5 linked regions of the Homo sapiens genome follow. The protein of the gene in region 5 interacts with the protein of the main gene of each other region in a biochemical or structural test. Each region holds a gene or a part of one and is shown on either strand. Other genes may lie near its edges. The genes, in order: CASP3, TOP1, PPM1G, NUDT21 and SNRNP70.

The links.
Region 1: of the proteins of SNRNP70 (region 5) and CASP3, one has a biochemical effect on the other in vitro, tested with the Homo sapiens proteins (one study listed by BioGRID).
Region 2: the proteins of SNRNP70 (region 5) and TOP1 interact in a test that uses a peptide from one of them, tested with the Homo sapiens proteins (one study listed by BioGRID).
Region 3: the proteins of SNRNP70 (region 5) and PPM1G interact in far-western blotting, tested with the Homo sapiens proteins (one study listed by IntAct).
Region 4: the proteins of SNRNP70 (region 5) and NUDT21 form a complex in vitro, tested with the Homo sapiens proteins (one study listed by BioGRID).

Annotation. Positions count from the first base shown.
Region 1 is NC_000004.12:184,635,940-184,639,460, forward strand, and holds part of CASP3 (caspase-3 isoform a preproprotein), read right to left. Parts: intron 2,530-3,521; coding exon of another isoform or gene 2,515-2,529; coding exon 2,462-2,514; intron 1-2,461. UniProt on the Homo sapiens protein: Thiol protease that acts as a major effector caspase involved in the execution phase of apoptosis. Following cleavage and activation by initiator caspases (CASP8, CASP9 and/or CASP10), mediates execution of apoptosis by catalyzing cleavage of many proteins.
Region 2 is NC_000020.11:41,112,308-41,115,828, reverse strand, and holds part of TOP1 (DNA topoisomerase 1), read right to left. Parts: intron 3,048-3,521; coding exon 2,904-3,047; intron 1,860-2,903; coding exon 1,674-1,859; intron 459-1,673; coding exon 390-458; intron 1-389. UniProt on the Homo sapiens protein: Releases the supercoiling and torsional tension of DNA introduced during the DNA replication and transcription by transiently cleaving and rejoining one strand of the DNA duplex.
Region 3 is NC_000002.12:27,403,076-27,406,596, forward strand, and holds part of PPM1G (protein phosphatase 1G), read right to left. Parts: intron 1-3,521.
Region 4 is NC_000016.10:56,448,533-56,452,808, forward strand, and holds the start of NUDT21 (cleavage and polyadenylation specificity factor subunit 5), read right to left. Parts: upstream 2,801-4,276; 5' UTR 2,671-2,800; coding exon 2,555-2,670; intron 1-2,554. Other genes in the region: prolyl 3-hydroxylase OGFOD1, read left to right, coding at 3,081-3,234. UniProt on the Homo sapiens protein: Component of the cleavage factor Im (CFIm) complex that functions as an activator of the pre-mRNA 3'-end cleavage and polyadenylation processing required for the maturation of pre-mRNA into functional mRNAs.
Region 5 is NC_000019.10:49,102,451-49,105,798, forward strand, and holds part of SNRNP70 (U1 small nuclear ribonucleoprotein 70 kDa), read left to right. Parts: intron 1-976; exon of another isoform or gene 977-1,137; intron 1,138-2,183; coding exon 2,184-2,285; intron 2,286-3,348. UniProt on the Homo sapiens protein: Component of the spliceosomal U1 snRNP, which is essential for recognition of the pre-mRNA 5' splice-site and the subsequent assembly of the spliceosome. SNRNP70 binds to the loop I region of U1-snRNA.

The sequences.
Region 1 (3,521 bases), on a different chromosome or scaffold from region 5:
AAGCATTATTGTAAATAATTGAAAATATCTGTCTGGAAGTCACTTATCTAAAAAAACCTCTGCTATCTAGATTGGGGTCAGTAAACTTTTTTTTTAATGGGCTAAATATTAAGTGTTTTAGGCTTGTGGGCCATCTGGTTTCTGTTACAGCTACTCAATTCTATTCTTTTTTTTTTTTTTTTGAGACATGGTCTGGCTCTGTCACCCAAGCTGGAGTGCAGTGGTGCCATCATAGCTCACTGCAACTTTGAACTCTTGGGCTCCAGTGATACTCCTTCCTCAGCCTTCTGAGTAGCTAGGACTACAGACAGGCATGCCCCACCATGCCCAGCTAATTTCTGTATTTTCTTTTTTAGAGACAGGATCTCGCTATGTTGCCCAGGCTAGTCTTGAACTCCTGGCCTCAAGTGATCCTCCTGCCTTGGCCTCCAAAAGTGCTGGGATTACAGTTGTGAGCCACTGTGCCCAGCCATAGCTGCTCAATTATACTGGTGAAACGGGCTTAGGACAATATGTAAGCGAATGGATGTGCCTATATTCCAACGAAAGTTGATAAAAACAGGCCTTAAGCTTGATCCCTGATCTAGACCAAGAGTCAGGCAAAAACAGGTCTAGGAACTACCAAACACTAACACCTACAGTCCATATACTCATGCACTTAACCTTAAGAGCATCTCACATTATACACAATTCCAAAAATACTGTTGGAAAAAGATTAAATGTAGTAAATTAAAGGAGTCAACGTGAGAAAACAGTTATGATTTTTAACCAGAGGTGAACAGCCTCACATTTACAGACTGAAGTTAAATCCTGAAAGCGTGACTTGACCTTTGAGTCCTACAGATGATGGATCATGGGACTTATGACTCCCAGCTCCCGACACCCCTTCCCCACGTGCTCTGGGTGCCTCCTAAGGAGGTAGGTACTTTACAAGCATATGATAGCTAGTCCACGAGGGGATACTCCTAATAAAAGGCAGAGGCTGTGAAAGCCGGGACTGTGAGGGCAACTTACCAAAGGATCGAAACAACCCTAAACCTGTCTGGGGCTTCCGTGCAACTTGTTATTGAAGTGGTGTTCTGCATGACATGAAAAGGTAGGGCCAGGCAGGGTGGTTCACACCTGTACTCCCAGCACTTTGGGAGGCCGAGGCAGGAGGATCCCTTGAGGCCAGGCATTGGAGACCAGCCTGGGCAACACAGCAAGACCCCCATCTCTACAAAAATAAAAAACAAAAATAACCAGGCATGGTGGCACATGTCTGTAGTCCTAGCTACTCAGGAGGATTACTGGAGCCCAGGAGTGCAGTGAGCCATAATCAGATCACTGCACTCCAGCCTGTCTCAAAAAAGAAAGAAAAAAAAAATAGTAGGAAAATGTGTAAATCACTTTCAAAGGATTTTTTTGAAGAGATGGGGTCTTACTTCACTGTAACCTCTGGCGTGTAGCTAGGACTGACTACAAGCACACACACTATGGTGGACTAATTGTTTTTTGTTTTTTTGTAGAGACAGGGTCTCGTTATGTTGCCCAGGCTGGTTTCAAACTCTCCACCTCAAGTGATCCTCCTGCCACAGCTCCCACGTAGCTGGGATTACAGGAGCAAGCCACTGCACTGGCTAAAATGATTTAAATGACAGCAACAACTCTCTAAAATGGGACTGCATTTTAAAAGTTTACTTTCTAGAAAAATCCCTTTGCTAAACAAAATTGTGAAATCTTTAGTGGTAACTTGTTAATAGTATTTCTGTAATCATATTGTTTAGTAATAAAATTAGTTTGTAATATTCAGGGCAGCCGAGAATAACAATACTGGGTTTCAGAAATAAACTTTCAGAATTTAAAGTATTACGAGAGATCCCAAATAAATAATAACAGACAAGAATTAAAAAGTGAATTTGAGTTTTATCTTTTTCCTTTTTCCATCTGCTAGTTATTGGAAGCATTAATAAGCAGAATATTCCAAAAAGACACGGGGAAAAAAAGGGTAAAATTCATCCATAACTAGGCAGTTTGTCCCCGGACTGAAAACTGGCATTGCATTTTAGTCGTAAAAACTCATAAACAAGAGGTCAAGAAACTCCTCCCAAACCTAAACCCTCTAATCCTATAGAGCGATTCGGGAGGGTAGAAAGCACCGGCGCTTGGGAGTCCTGCCTCTCCTGTGGTGTCCTTTTGGTTCCAGGACTAGGTTTCCAACTATGGGTCACACACCCTACTAGGCCTTTCCTTTCATCTTCCCTTCAGTTCTGTGAAAGTTTTAGCCCCATGTTAAAGACGAGGTTCAGAGAAGAAAAGTCAGTTTATGCAAAGCCACACAGCTGTCTGAGGTAGGAAGTCACTTGGTCTCTCTGGCCTGAGAGAGAGACCACTCTCTTTCCTCTTGCCCCACTGCTCGAGGTTTGCTTATTACACATCCCCATCTTTCTCTGATTATAAAGAATTCAATTTAAATACTCACGGTTCCAAATTTTTAATGGATTTTGAATCCACTGAGTTTTCAGTGTTCTCCATGGATACCTTTATTAACTAGAATACAAAGAAAATAGAAGTTAATAAAAAATCAGTCATAAAACCACTGCATTATATTAATTATCCCAGTGATTATTTTTCCAAATTAATACCTCAGTTCTCCCTCTACTGTTAAAGGTGTATGTGAGTCAGTTCTGGGGATAATGATTTCTTTGCAATGGTACATACAATTTAGCCTCTCTCTCTCTTTTTAATTGAGCTATGAATTATATATAGTGAACTACATAAAGCATATAGAAAGTATACAGCTCGATTTTTTATATTTACATACCCTCATCAGATCAAGATACAGATTACAGTTTATTTCTTTTGTAAGACAACACCTCGGGTCATTTCTAAGAACTGCAACTCAACACAGTTAAAACAAAAATCAAAAACTTCCCACCACAATGGTATAACTCACATAACACAATTCTACAATGCTTAGATTCCCAAGATACAGTATCAAGATGTTCCAAATCTCCATTAATCTTTATTCTTTTTTTTTTTTTCTTTTGAGGCAGGGTCTCACTCTGTCACCCAGGCTGGAGGGCAGCGGCGCAATCACGGCTCACTGCAGCTTCGATCTCCTGGACTCAAATTCTCCCGCCTCAGCCTCCCGAGTAGCTGGGATTACAGGCATGCACCACCATGTCTGGCTAATTTTTGTATTTTTTGTAGACATACGGTCTCGCTGTATTGCCCAGGCTGGTCTCAAACTCCTGAGTTCAAGTGATCTGCCCACCTAGGCCTCCTAAAGTGCTGGGATTACAGGCAAGAGCCACCGCACCCGGCCTAGTCTTTACTTTTAAAGTGGGTTTTGGAAGCCCAGCTTCTCATTTAGGGTAGTAAAATGGCCCAGGAAATGTAAAAGTAGAAACTAAAGTTTCTGCTTTCATTCTTCCATTACACAATTATATCTCACAAGGTGAACCAGTTCTTAGAATCAAAGCAACTATCACTTATTGAGCACTTAATATATACCAGGTACTTTGCAAGGCACTCAGTTT
Region 2 (3,521 bases), on a different chromosome or scaffold from region 5:
CCAAGCCTGGCCCAGGTTGGTGGGCTTAACAAACCAATAAAGCAAATTTTTCCTTCCCTATTAAGATATCAGGGACAGGTTTTGGGTCTCCAGCAGGGGTGGCTGGGCATTCAGTGAAGGGAAAGCTCTGCAGGAGCAGGGAAGGATAAAAGGTAGGGCTCATCTACCCCCCACCCTGAGTGCTTTAGCAGTTGTTCTGCAGCAGATGTGTCTTCTCTTGACTACAGATTCACCGTGGACTCAGAGGGAGGAAGAGAGAGTGTATGGGATGCCACAGAGCAGGCCAGGCTAAAGGGAGAGCCCAAGTCATCTGCCAGCAACCCTCCCCTTTAGGTACTGTGAGGCTCTGGCTGGGACTCCCTTCAACATTGTGTGCTTCATCTACTCACATTGAGTCTATCAAAAAGATCATCCTCGGGCTGCTTGTTCTCCATAAATAGTTGTAGGTTCTTAAAAACCTAAAAGATATAAGTGAATCCTAATTATTACTCTTGAAAAAAATCCTAACTTTAGAAATAACCCCAAACTTAAAGAAACTTGCAAAGAAAAAGGCACAAGGAACACGCATACATCCGTCACCGAGATTCACTGTTAACATTTTACCCCATTCATCATTTGCACAGTGTGCATGTATGCTCACTCTCTCCATGTGTATATTTACAGATATATATACATAATTGTTTGTTCTGAGCCATTTATAAGCACTTACTTATAATATGGTCCTAAAGTACATTTATAAGTACTTACTTATAATATGGTCCTAAAGTACATTTATAAGTACTTACTTATAATATGGTCCTAAACATTTCAGTGTGTATGTTCTAAAAATAGATATTCCCTTACATTTACACAGTATCAGCTTCAAAAATTTACATTGATACATACTGTTATCTAATCTGTCCAGAGTACTTCCACAGCCAGCAAAACCTGATTACTGATTATGGTGTCCTTATGAGAAGAGGTGTCTTTATAAGAAGAGGACTGCTGGTGGGCTGGATTATTAGGATCCTGCACACTGTAAGTCTCTGGTTCAAGCCCAATACTATGGAAAAGATTAGGTTGGGACTACAGAGCTATAGTACCCTCTTCAGTGATGGGCTCAGAGATCTGGGGACTAACATTAACCTTTCACTCAGTCAGGAGTTGGAGAAAGGCTGAGCAAAGATGAAAAGTGACAAATGTACCACATGACCAGGGGATACTAAGATATAGTTAAATCATATGCTGAGTTTGCTCTAAGGGCCTATTCTACAGCATGCTCCATTGAATACTGCTATAGGAGAAGGCCACTCCTTACCAGGAAGGTAGCACAGGGCGGAACAGTGACTAAAAGGAGGTACACAAGATATCAAATAATACCTCTCCCCTCTTTCAAGTCATTTATTTTTATTTATTTTAATATGAGAGGCAAGGTCTCACTATTTTGCCCAGGCTGGAGTACAGTGGCTATTCACAGGTGTGATCACAGCACACTACAGCCTCAAACTTTTGGTCTCCAGTGATCCTCCTGTCTCAGCCTTCTGAATAGCTGGGTCTACAGGCATGTGCCATGTTGCCTGTCTCAAGTCACTTTTGCTGGTGCCCAGCAAAGTGCAAAGCACACAAAAAAGCAGTCAACCCATGCTTGTTGAATAATGGAAAACAAGTCAGACAGTACAGGTACATTAACTTACTCGTTTCTCAACAGGGACCTTGTTATAGTATCTGATGGAGTCCTTCCCGAGGAAGTCAAACTCTACCACATATTCCTGACCATCCAACTCTGGGTGTAGATTGATGTGCTCCACACGAAGTGAGCAGCAGCCCACAGTGTCCGCTGTTTCTCCTTCCTCCTTTTCATTGCCTGCTCTCAGAGCAAGCTGCCCAGGAAAGAAAGAAAAGATGAGCATGAATGGAAGAGACATGATCCTTACACAATTTCGTTCTGTGTTTTTTTTTTTTTTTTTTTTGAGACAGTCTCGCTCTGTCGCCAGGCTAGAGTGCAATGGCGCAATTTTGGCTCACTGCAAGCTCCGTCTCCCGGGTTCATGCCATTCTCCTGCCTCAGCCTCCGAAGTAGCTGGGACTACAGGCGCCCGCCACCACGCCAATTTTTATTTTTTTTTTTTTTTTTGTATTTTTAGTAGAGATGGGGTTTCACCACATTGGCCAGGATGGTCTCTTGACCTCGTGTTCCACCTGCCTTGGCCTCCCAAAGTGCTGGGATTACAGGCGTGAGCCACTGCGCCCAGCCTTTTGACCCTTATGCAATTTCTAGGCATCCAAAACAGAAGCCTCCCAATTCTGTTTGAAGCCACAGCATCAGTCAGCATGGCCTGGGAACTCTGGATTCTGCAGTGTTACTTCCTCCCCCACTCACTATGAAATCTATAGGGATGTTAAATATTCATGCTCCTTTTCTTTCTATTCTGTCCTCTGAAATAGGGATGGAGAAAAGGAAAAAAAAAATTAAATAAGGCAGCAAATGAGGGAGTGCTGCTACTCTGGGCAATCAAACTCAAAAAGCTAGTGTGAATTTTGAGACAATTCAGAACTTATGTTAAAATACAAGACTGGGGGAAAAACATGAACTTTTTTTTCTTCTCGTGAGTACCAAGAAATTGATCTCCTCTAGAGCGTGGTCTTTAAAACTATATAATGGTGATACCTGCATGGTTTATTTAAACAATTTTATAAGTTATAACCAACTTTCTAAAGGAATGAAATAGAGTTAAAAAAAGATCAGAATCTACTGCTCACAGTAAGGCTAAGCATTGTTTTGTGCAACTTTTGATTCAGTTTTACATACAAATATATGTATGTTGAGTTGTGATATACAGTATGTGGCACAGGGCCTGGGGCAGAGCAGAAACTCCCTTTGTTAAGCTCAACACTAGACAATGCCGATGGGAAGATGCTCTCACCTTGTCGATGAAGTACAGGGCTACAGCTCTCTGCCGGACTTTCATCTCTTTGGACTTCCAGTCTTCTCGATACTGGTTCCGGATCTTGTCCACACATTTTTTCAGCCGCCGAGCAGTCTCGTATTTCTGCCAGTCCTTCTCACCCTGTAAAGACCCAAACCCAAATGTAGATTACTTTGGGACAGTGTAGTAAAGACAGACTTTGAATATAGCCAGGCAAGGTGGCGCAAGCCTATAATCCCAGCTAGCTAATAGGGAGGCTAAGACACAAGAATTGCTTGAACGCAGGAGGCAGAGGTTGCAGTGAGCCAAGATCACGCCACTGCACTCCACCATGGGTGACAAAGCAAGACTTTGAACAAAAGAGCAGGAACTTGACCTTAAGCAAACGTAAAAAAGAATAGTACTGAAGAGAGAGTTTGGCACATTTAACCTGTTAAGAATGCACATTGTCCCATCTCACTGCCAAGCACAACTGACTTCTAAGGCTTTCCCAGAAGAAAGTTTCTAGCTCTAATTCTCTAAAATGTTTATGTTCCTGGGAAAAACCCACATGGGATGTCCCAAAAACTAACTTCTGTCAACACAAAGCACATAATCACCCCCATTCCCACATCA
Region 3 (3,521 bases), on a different chromosome or scaffold from region 5:
AAATCCCATACTCCTTACCACTCAAGCATGGGCAAGAGTGAGATCCTGTCTCAAAATAAATACATAAATAATTTAAAAAATAAAAAGGCCGGGCACAGTGGCTCATGCCTGTAATTCCAGCACTTTGGGAGGCTGAGGCGGGCAGATCACTTGAGGCCAGAAGTTCAAGACCAGACTCGCCAGCATGGGAAAACCCCTTCTCTACTAAAAATACAAAAAAGTTAGCTGGGCATGGTGGCGAGTGCCTGTAATCCCAGCTACTTGGGAGGCTGGGGTAGGCAAATTGCTAGAACCCAGGAGGCAGAAGCTGCAGTGAGCCGAGATGGCACCATTGCACTCCAGCCTGGGCAACAAGAGCAAAACTCCAACTTAAAAAAATAAAAAGAAAATAGTTTCTCCATGCTCATGGGCATACATGTGATATAATTCTATACTAGCTTTGAACTGTGAATGGGTACTGCATGCTAATCAAATGCAAATAATGCGTTTTTATAAAAGTTGCTAACCACATTCTAGACAAAGAAATTCTGGCCAGGCGCAGTAGCTCACGTCTGTAATCCCAGCACTTTGGGAGGCGGAGGCGGGCAGATCACCTGAGGTCAGGAGTTCAAGACCTGCCTGACCAACACAGAGAAACCCCATCTCTACTAAAAATACAAAAAATAAGCCAAGTGTCGTGGCACATGCCTGTAATCCCAGCTACTCAGGAGGCTGAGGCCGGAGAATCACTTAAACAGAAAGGCCAGTGAGCCGAGATCACACCACTGCACTCTAGACTGGGTGACAGAGACTCTGTCTAAAAAAAAAAAAGAGAGAGAGAGAGAAATTCTGACCTGGTTTAGTAAGTAAAAAGCGCTTTAAGCTATTGGCTATTGATATGAGATGCTAATCTGAAGATAAGAAAATAAATGTTTTTCAACCTTCAATGCCCTAAGGTAGAACCCCATAGCATACTTGTGATATTTCTTTTTATATTTTTTCCATTAATTTAATGACTGAAACAAATATGCAGGTATTTTAAGAATTTTCTGCTCAATACTATCTTTATAGTCAATTCTAGATGACCCCTTGACCACTAATAAGCCAGCTTCTACACAGCAATAAATAGCCAGCCTCCTCAAAATTATACTATAGATATTGACACTGCCTTTAATAAAAGGAAAATATGATTTATAGCACAAAAAATTCCTGGCCGGGCACGGTAGCTCACATCTGTAATCCCAGCACTTTGGGAGGCCGAGGCAGGTGGATCACAACGTCAGGAGTCTTGAGACCAGCCTGGCCAACATAGTGAAATCCTGTCTCCACTAAAAATACAAAAAAAAATTAGCTGGCCTGGTGGCAGACTCCTGTAATCCCAGCTATTTGGAAGGCTGAGGCAGGAGAATCACTTGAACCCAAGAGGCGGAAGTTTCAGTGAGCCGAGATCAAGCCACTACACTCCAGCCCGGGTGACAATGCGAGACTCCGTTTCAAAAAAAAAAAAAATTCCTAACTCTCCATAGAAAGCAGTTTTGTCACTTCCAGAGAACCTCACAACCAAATATTAAATGTACTCTTGTCCCCTTAAGACTACATCAACTGATGGGCCAGGCATGGTGGCTCACGCCTGTAATGCCAGCACTTTGGGAGGCCGAGGCGGGCGGATTAAGAGGTCAGGAGTTGGAGACCAACCCGGCCAACATAGTGAAACCCTGTCTCTATTGAAAATACAAAAAATTAGCCGGGCATGGTGGCAGGCGCCTGTAATCCCAGCTACTCGGGAAGCTGAGGCAGGAGAATCGCTTGAACTCAGGAGGCAGAGGTTGCAGTGAGCCAAGATCATGCCATTATACTCCAGCCTGGGCAACAGTGCAAGACTCCGTCTCGGAGAAAAAAAAAAAAAAAAAAGACTACATCAACTGAATCTATTTTCAGATTTGACTTCTTATTTAGCCAACAAAAACTCAAGGGCCTTACCTTATAATTTTTCAGGCACCCCTCCACAACCTACCTCATTTTTTTTTTTTTTTTTTTAAGATGGAGTCTCACCCTGTCGCCCAGGCTGGAGTGCAGTGGTGCGATCTCGGCTCACTGCAACCTCCGCCTCCCAGGTTCAAGCGATTCTCCTGCCTCAGCCTCCGGAGTAGCTGGGACTACAGGCGTGCGCCACCATGCCCAGCTAATTCTTGTATTTTAGAAGAGACAGGGTTTCACCATATTGGCCAGAATGATCTCGGTCTCTTGATCTCGTGATCCGCCCACCTCGGCCTCCCAAAGTGCTGGGATTACAGGCATGAGCCACCGTGCCCAGTGCCTACCTCTTAATCCCAAAGTACATACCTCATCCACTTTTTTCATGGAGAAAGGAGGAAGGAGGAGAACATCAACTGTGGTGGTTTTTTTGTTTGTTTTTTTGAGACGGAGTCTGTCACCCTGGCTAGAGTGCAGCGGTGAGATCTCGGCTCACTGGCCTTCCTATTCAAGCAATTCTCTGGCCTCTGGCTAATTTTTGTATTTTCAGTAGAGACGGGGTTTCACCATGTTGACTAGGCTGGTCTCGAACTGACCTCAGGTGATCTGCCCCCCTCGGCCTCCCAAACTGCTGGGATTACAGGCGTTAAGCCACCACGACTGGCCTGTGGTATTTTGATTACCTTTTCTCAAAACACCCTGGTTGCTGGGCATGGTGGCTCACAGCATTTTGGGAGGCAGAGGCGGGCCGATCACCTGAGGTCAGAAGTTCGAGACCAGCCTGACCAACATGGAGAGACCCCCATCTCTACTAAAAATACAAAATTAGCCAGGCGTGGTGGCACATGCCTGTAATCCCAGCTACTCAGGAGGCTGAGGCAGGAGAATCGCTTGAACCCGGGAGGCGGAGGTTGCAGTGAGCCGAGATCATGCCATTGTACTCCAGCCTGGGCAACAAGATAGAAACTCCGTCTCAAAAACAAAACAAAACAAAACAAACAACAACAACACCCTGGTCACACAGGAAGAGAAGCTTGAAACAGGCAGAAAGTAAAAATGCCAGCTATTGATGATTGCCATTTTTGTCTCAAGAGTCCTCTCTACGGCTAAATCTATCCATCAGTCAGCATGTCAACAACCTTTAGTGGTATGATAACCTTACCTCAAATGAAGCATTAGGACCAAGCAAATAGGGTAAATAAACTTTATTAATTTTTGGATTAAGCCCTAAAGCTTCAGAGGAATGGGAGTACTTTATATTTTCTGGAAAGATAAGATTCAGGGAAGAGGCTAGAACTCATAGTTATTTTCTTGCAATAGCAAAGAAACTATGCTACACTTTGAAGAGAAAAAAAGCCAGAAGGAACACTATCAATGAAGCAGAATAGGATCCCAAACAATACTCTTCAAGAGGATTTGATTAGGCATATTTAACTATTGATTAGGCATATTTATTCAAACAAGGGCAACTTCAGAAACAGCACATTAGCAAGATTTTAATACCCTAAGCAGTTATCTCTCAGGAGGAAGATTAGGATGTAAGGAATAGTCTAGTAAGATCTCTACAC
Region 4 (4,276 bases), on a different chromosome or scaffold from region 5:
TTTCTCTTTTTGTCCTCTAAACCTATTTACTAGCCTTTGGCATTTATTCTATTCAGTCTCCTTATTGTTTCCTTCTCCTCATCTGAATCTTCTACCCACCATATCTAATCGAAAACTCTCTTCCTTTACCAATAATTTAAAATATGGCTCAAACTGTTAAAGACAGTTTTCATCTTGCCTAATAAGGATCAAATTTTTCTTTAAAGATAGTTAAAAAATCCATACTTATATGTTGTAAGCCCTTAATTAAAGCCTTACAGCAAGAAGCCTTTGAGTACGAATTTAGGCCACATTTGCCCATCCAAGGTATCTATTCTACCAAAAGCCCTTGACATTAATAGTCAACATTATTGTATCTACCCCACTCAGCCATTCTTGAAAGGGGAAAAAATCAAGGTTGCCAAAACTTTAAAAATTACTTTAATTCCAGAAGCCAAGTTCTAGGCATATGAAAAAGCTCTAAAATAATTAAAATATACCATTCCAGGATGCTTTAAAAATTTAAAGAACATCCCCGGTAGATCCAATGCTAAATCTAAAACCATCATCCATAGCAGCAGCAGATATGCTACATAGAACGACGTGCCAAGCAATTTTTTAAAACGCTTTACATATATTAACATTTAATTCTGACAACCTGAGTTAGAAAGAATTAAGGATAGCCATTACACATCTCTGTTGCAAGAGCCAGCTCCAATATATCAGTAAGGAGATGTGAAGATGAAATGTCAGAATTTTCACCTGTGAAATCAGAGTGCCAGCCCAGACATACATATTGTTCTCATCATACTGTGAGCTTCATAAAGCAGGGGCTACACCTTACTTCCTCACCACTGTATATCCAGTATTGTGCACAGTGCCTGGTACAAAGTAGGCATTCATGCAATATTTCCTAAAATAAAATATACTGGGGGAGAGGGCATTTGTTTTCAACTTAATGTTAACTCAGGTGAACTTAAGTTCACAACACAATTATTATTTCTGAATATTTGTATTTACACAGGAGAGGAAATGTACTGTAAATCAACCCATAATTTTAATAGAGCGAAGATTAAAATATCTTACTGAAAGCTAACTATTTTGCCAATTCTACAAAATGGTTGGATGCAAATTAATTCAGTAATCAAGACAAAACAAGAAAAGACTGTGGGTTTTAGTTCTAATAACCACCGAAAGTAATCCAGAAGCTGTGCTTTCACACTTTTAAAAAGGATAACATTTGCCTTTACCATTTGATGGATTTTTTCTTAATTTTTAAAAAAATTTTTGTAGAGACAGCCTATGTTGCCCAGACTGATCTCCAACTCCTGGCCTCAAGTGATCCTCCCACCTCAGCCTCCCAAGGTGCTGGGAGTACAGTCGTGAGCCGCCACTCCTGAGAACTTTTATACACACAACTATCAACTAATTCCAGATTTTATAAACCCAGCATTTCCATTATCTAAATTTCCAAGCCAACACGTTTTGCAAAATAAAACAATGTTAACCATCTTTTCAACTTCAAATCACTTTTGGTTGGGGGACGGGGAGACAATGTCCGTTTATTTTAATATGAAACAGAGAAACACCTAAACTGCCTTACGAAAACATCAATACCACCAAATCCTTGCACTTGTACCCTGACTGGCATAAACTGGCCACTTTCCTCCATCCTGGCATAAAATGGAGGCACCGCGTTGCCTCGAAAACAAATCCTCAGAAACGATTTTAAAAAGCATTACTGACAATTTCTTGATTAAGACACCCCAAACGCCAATTACCTGCTACAGCGAGTCTGCTTCTGAGAATGACCTTGAAATGCAATGGTTTGAAGTGTTGAAACAGAAAGGTGTTGAAAATAAAACACAGCCCACAATGGGTTTTCTGGTACAAACATTCTGGTTCCCTCCAGTCTGAAAGCCCAACCATAGCAGCATCCTTACTCCCAAGGAGGGGCCTACTTGTGGTGCCTGGGATGCCGGCATTGAGACATCAGACGACGCGAAGGCATAAGGCATGGGGCAGGGCAGACAGCCCTGAGCACATGAATAAAATGTGTTGTATTCAAAAACTGAAGTATTAAGTGGCACCTAAAAGGAAGAAAACTAGACCTAGGCATTACAGCTAGATCTCGAAACCTTACTGTCAGAGTGAAATCTGCAAAAATGATACTAGGTTATACCATTCGTATCACATCAACACTCACAAAGCAATACCATGTACGTGATGCGAAAGCATAAACAATTCACTGGAAGGATTAAAAAAACACACATTTTGAAGTCGGTTACCTCTGGAGAGGTGGGGAAAGGATGAGTTAAAAGCAAACTCCGTTTTTCCCCATTATGACCGAATACATAGGATGGGAACAAGCCTTCCTTTCAGAAAAGGACTCTAACCCTGGAGGCTGGAGGATGAGAAAGGGGCCTGAGAGAGGGAGGAAGGCGCGCATCCGCCAGCGGGAGTTGGAGGCGGGGAGGTGCAGAGGCGTGAAGCGCGCCGAAAAGCCGGGGGCGCGTCGGAGAGTCTATAGGAGCTTTCACGAGAGAAATGCCCGCCAAGGCCGCGCCGCACTTACAGGTTGATGGTGCGCTCCAGGGTGAGGGGCTTCGTCTGCTGGATGTACTTGTTGCCGAACTGAGTGACCCCCCGGGGCCAGCCGGTCTGCGAGCGATTGGGCGGTACCACAGACATGCTGGCGAGCTCCGGCGCTGACGGCGAGCAGAAAGTGGCAGGCAGGGTAGACTTTCCCCGTGCGGGAAGCGGTTATCTGCAATCCCCTCAGCGGCTACTGCCCGCCATTAACAGGACAGCGCAAGAGGAGGCGTAGGCACGCCGGAAGTGAACCCGGAGCCTCTGGCGGCAGGAAGTAGAGGGGCGGTGGCCTGCCAGACCGAGCTCCAGTGGGCCAATTGCTGGTGGGATGGCTGCAATAGCTGGAGCTCCCATTGGTAAACCGGGTATAGGTTCCGCCTTCTCTTACTTTGGTGCTTCCCATTGGGTAGGGCCGGGAAACACGATAAAGGGGACATGCCGGGAGTTGCAGTACCCTCAGGAAGGTAGCGTCTTGATCTGCGTGGCGTGGTTCTGTGCCTTGGGAAGAGATGAATGGGAAGCGGCCAGCGGAGCCCGGCCCAGCCCGGGTGGGAAAAAAGGGAAAGAAGGAGGTGATGGCGGAGTTTTCGGACGCTGTTACGGAAGAAACCTTGAAAAAGCAGGTGGCTGAGGCCTGGAGCCGCAGGACGCCGTTCAGTCACGGTAACCGGGTGCTCTCAGGGAGGGGCCGCCACGCAGAGGTCTAGGGATCTCTGAAAAAGCCCTGGGACTCGCGCCCAGCCTTGGGCAGCGGGGCCGCAAGGGAAGAGGCTCTTAGAGGACTTTGGCCACCTCCTACTCTCCTGCCTCGGCTGCTGCTCCCTTTCACTCCAAATTCGGTTGCAATTTAGAAACGTGAGAAGAGGGAGAAATGGAGGCCGGAGAGTTTTGGGAAGCAGAGGGTATGCAAGAGATAGTTGCATTCTGGAGTCAAAGATTACTGAGTTAGAATCCTCTCCCCTGATTGGGCGTCGCCAGGCAATGGAATTAACCTTATTAAACTTCAGTTGCTTCCTAAGTAAAATGGGATAGTTCATAATATTTACCTCGGAAAGTCGGTGAATGGGAGCGACACACTAATGCTTGCAGGCTTCAGTAAATGTTTCCCTGAGTAAGGCCCAATACACATGTGGACAAATACAGGAGTGGCTGATGTCATTTCTCCTGCAAGGGCATTGCTCAGCTGTCCCAGGAGAGTCTAGCCAGGGCATTTGTCGTGAGCTGCCAGCTTGACTCCCTAGTGTACTCGTCTCTACGCGCCTGTAGTTTGACTCCATGATGTATGAAAATAAACGCGCTTTGACCAAGGAAAGGCGCCTACGTTGAACGATTCCAGCCTCAGCTTTAAATATCACCTTAGGTGTTCAGAGCTCTGCTTCATGCGCCAGGCATCCCCTTCTAGAGTTTGCCGTAATTTTTCTTTCCGTTGTCAAGTGCTTTGAAGAGGTGAGTCCTGGGTAGGCTGGATGCCTATAGAAAACGATAGCTTAGTGTTTAAGTGCAGGCTCTGTACTCTCAGTTTCTTCATCTGTAGAATGGGGAGAGTGATAATGTCTCCCTCAGAGCTGTTAAAAAGATTGAATGAGATCATGGGCCTGGCACCTGGTAGGTGGTGCTGATGATTACAGGATGGTGATCTAGCCAGCCGGAAGCAGTGGGTAAATGTTGGGGTAGAAATCAAGGAATTAGAGGTGGTTATGCCCGA
Region 5 (3,348 bases):
GACCCGGCTTCGTGATGTCAGCGGCGAGGTGGCAGGAACACCGAGGGCAGGGCTCCAGGCCAGGGCTCCACTGGAGCCCTTCAGCCTTCCCTCCCTGCCCCCGTGCTTTCTATGGGGCTGCTACTGTGCTGGCCCTGGAGAGTCTTTTTGGCTGCTAGTTTTGGGGTGCTCTGCCCCCTTTCTGTCTTCCTTACTGTGGTTGAGGCCTCCCGAGGGGGCTGGCTGTGGTGTCCAGCAGCTCTCCAGAGGTGGTCAGGAGCTCCCTAAAGTGCATGGAATTGGGGCTTGGGGTGTGGGAGGGACCAAGGGGTAGGCTGCTAGCAGCTGAAGGTGTCGTAGGTTTTTACTAAAGAACCTTCCACTGTCTAGAGACTTGAGAGAGGGAAAGAGAGAGAGAGGCCTAGACGAACACAATCACATGTTTTCTTTGCTGTTCCTCCCGGGATGGGCCTGTTTTGGGGTTTGGGACTCTGAACCCGAGCGGGGTTCCTTCGCTTGACTTTGATCCTGGTCCTTAAATGCCTTTCCCCACTCCCCTCCCGTGGGTTCAGGGGCCAAGCGGCCCCTCCTCAGAGCACGGGCAGCACCGTCTCCTGGACCCCTGTGTGCCAGCCTCTGCAGACGCAGCTGGTGGGAGGGAGCATGGATTTGGAGGTGGAGAAGTCACTCCTGGTCCTCGGAGGGGGTGGGCTGTGTGCCTAGTTCAGTGTGACTCGGGGATTGGTGAGGGCGGACAGGTTTCTGAGGCCTCCCTAGCCTTCTTTGTAAATTCACACGAGATAGTCCAGGGCTTTCCAGCGCCCAGCTTGGATGATAATCCTCGTCTCCCCCACTCTAAGGCCTCCTTGAGATTTCTTTGGGGTCTACCACGTCCTCTGCCTGTCTCCAGGTGGTACAGGAGATGTGGTTCCTCTCCCTCTCCTGGCTCCCTAGAACCCCCCACTTCCCCTCCCTGTAGCTTTAGCTGACCCCGTGGTGGTGGGTGTGGGGTCTGTGCGCGTGCTCAGGTAAGCTTGGGGGCTCCAGGTAAGCGGTCCCGTGTCCCCCCCCCGGGAAGCCCGCCTCCTCGCCAGGCCCCCAGGAGTTGCCGAGCCCCCCCCATCCCGCTCGGTTTGGACACCCGCAAGGCCGGCATCGGTAAATGGCACCTTTTTCTCTTCCTCTGGTTGTTATTTGGGGGGGAGCGGGCTGGGGCGGGGCAGGGTATTACGGTTGGTTGAGGACAGCCCCCTAGGCCAGGGCTGGGTGGGGGAACGGGGACTTTTTGGCCTTCATGACAGCCCCACGTTGATCACAGGCCAGGGCCTCAGGCTTGCCTTCTGCTACGCGCTGCCCGAGAGCAGCAGTGAGCCTCTCCCCCGTCTCCCCTCTACGACTCCCCTTTCCTGGCAGGCTCAGGCTGGGGTGCGCTCCCAGCACGTGTTGAGCCGGGGGTGTGGAGGGCGAGATGGGGCAGGGCTGGGGGGAGGCAGAGTCAGTCGTCTCAGGTAAGGCAGGGATTTTCAGTAGCACCGCACGGCTCCCCATGCTTCCTCCACTGCCCCTCTCCCCTGCTGCAGGGGCCCCGCCAGGCCCCCTGGGAGTGTATAACCCGCCTCTCTGCTCCCTGCCATTTCCTGAAGATTTCTCCCACCCCCTTCTGGTTCATTTTCTGTTCTGATGTCTGTTCCCCCCACACTCACCCCCCTCCAAAAAAAACAAAAACAGAAAAAACCGGTGTGGTCTGGGGTGCGGAGCGTCCCAGCTGGGCCTCCTGCCCCGGCTTGGTGTCTCAGGGTGCATGCTTGGGGTTGTGGAGGAGCCCCCTCCCCCACAGCAGAGTCCAGCGTGGAGTTAACCTTCAGTTTCTTTGCAGCGATTTTGGCCGCCCTGGCGGGAGGGGGCTGTTCCATCATGTGGGAGAGGAAGGGCCGGGGAGCCTAGGGGGTGGCGGGTGAGGGTGGACGTCTCCCCCGACCAGGAGTGGTTGGGGCGCTGAGAGGAAGCAGACGCTGAGATGGAGCAGGCCCTTCACCGGTTTGGGAGAGGGTTGGTCTGGCTGTCAGTTGCCTGGCTGTCTGTTGGGCGTGTGCGTGTGCGTGATGATGGGGACACGGGGCGGGGATTCTGTAGAGCTGGGCCTGTCCTGACTAGAGGACCCTCTGGGGACTCCTCTCCCCTCCCCCTCCCCACATCTGTTACAGCCGCTTACAAACACGCAGATGGCAAGAAGATTGATGGCAGGAGGGTCCTTGTGGACGTGGAGAGGGGCCGAACCGTGAAGGGCTGGAGGCCCCGGCGGCTAGGTGAGCACATCCTGCCTTCGACGGGCTCTCGGGGGCCCTGGGCCTGGTGGCCTTGTTCTCCCTTCTCTGCTGCTTTCTGCTTCTCTGTCTCCTGCCGGCCCACCTCTCCCATCGCGTCCTCATCTCCGGCTTCTCTCTCTTGTGGCCATCACATTTCTGACAGCTGCCTGCCTCCTCGTTCTGGGTTACTGTGAGGAGCAGGGGCACCAGCCTGGAGAGGCCTGAGCCCACATGCTGGCGTCCGCCCTTGCTAGCTGGGGGTCCCCTTTTCCTGCCTCATTGTACTCCTCTTAGTGGAAATAACCCCGAGTTCACTGAGCTCAGTGTACTGGGCGCCCAGCTTGGCAGTGACGCATGCTGGGGTTGTAAATGTCACTCGCTCATCTGCTTCTGCTGCTTGCTGTTGCTCTTGTTCACTCTTTTACTGATTCAGCAAGTACCTATTGGATCACCAGCTGTGTGCCGGGCTTCTAGTTGAGCAACACAGAGGCAGCCTCTGCCCTCTGAGCCTCCTGCATTCGGTCTCCTCATTGTCATTTGCTGTCTCAGGCAAGGTCAGTTTGGCTGCAAGTATCAGAAATAAACTTGAGCTTCCTGAAACATAAAGGGCCCTGTTGATGTAGAATCATGGGCATCCTTTGGAGTTCGGAGGTATGTGATGTCCGTGGACCTGAGAACCTGGTAGCTGACGCTGTTAAGAGCTGGGGCAACCAGGCCAGGCGTGGTGGCTCGCCTGTAATCCCAGCACTTTGGGAGGCCGAGGCGGGTGGATCATGAGGTCAGGAGTTCGAGACCAGCCTGGCCAAGATGTTGAAACCGCATCTCTACTAAAAATACAAAAATTAACTGGGCGTGGTGGCGGGTGCCTGTAATCCCATCTACTCGGGAGGCTGAGGCAGAGAATTGCTTAAACCTGGGAGGCAGAGGTTGCAGTGAGCCAAGATAGAGTCACTGCATTCCATCCAGCCTGGGTGCCAGAGCAAGACTCTGTCTCAAAAAAAAAAACAAAAAACAAAAAAACTGGGGCGACCCACCTGTGATGTGTGACAGCCCACAGCTTGCT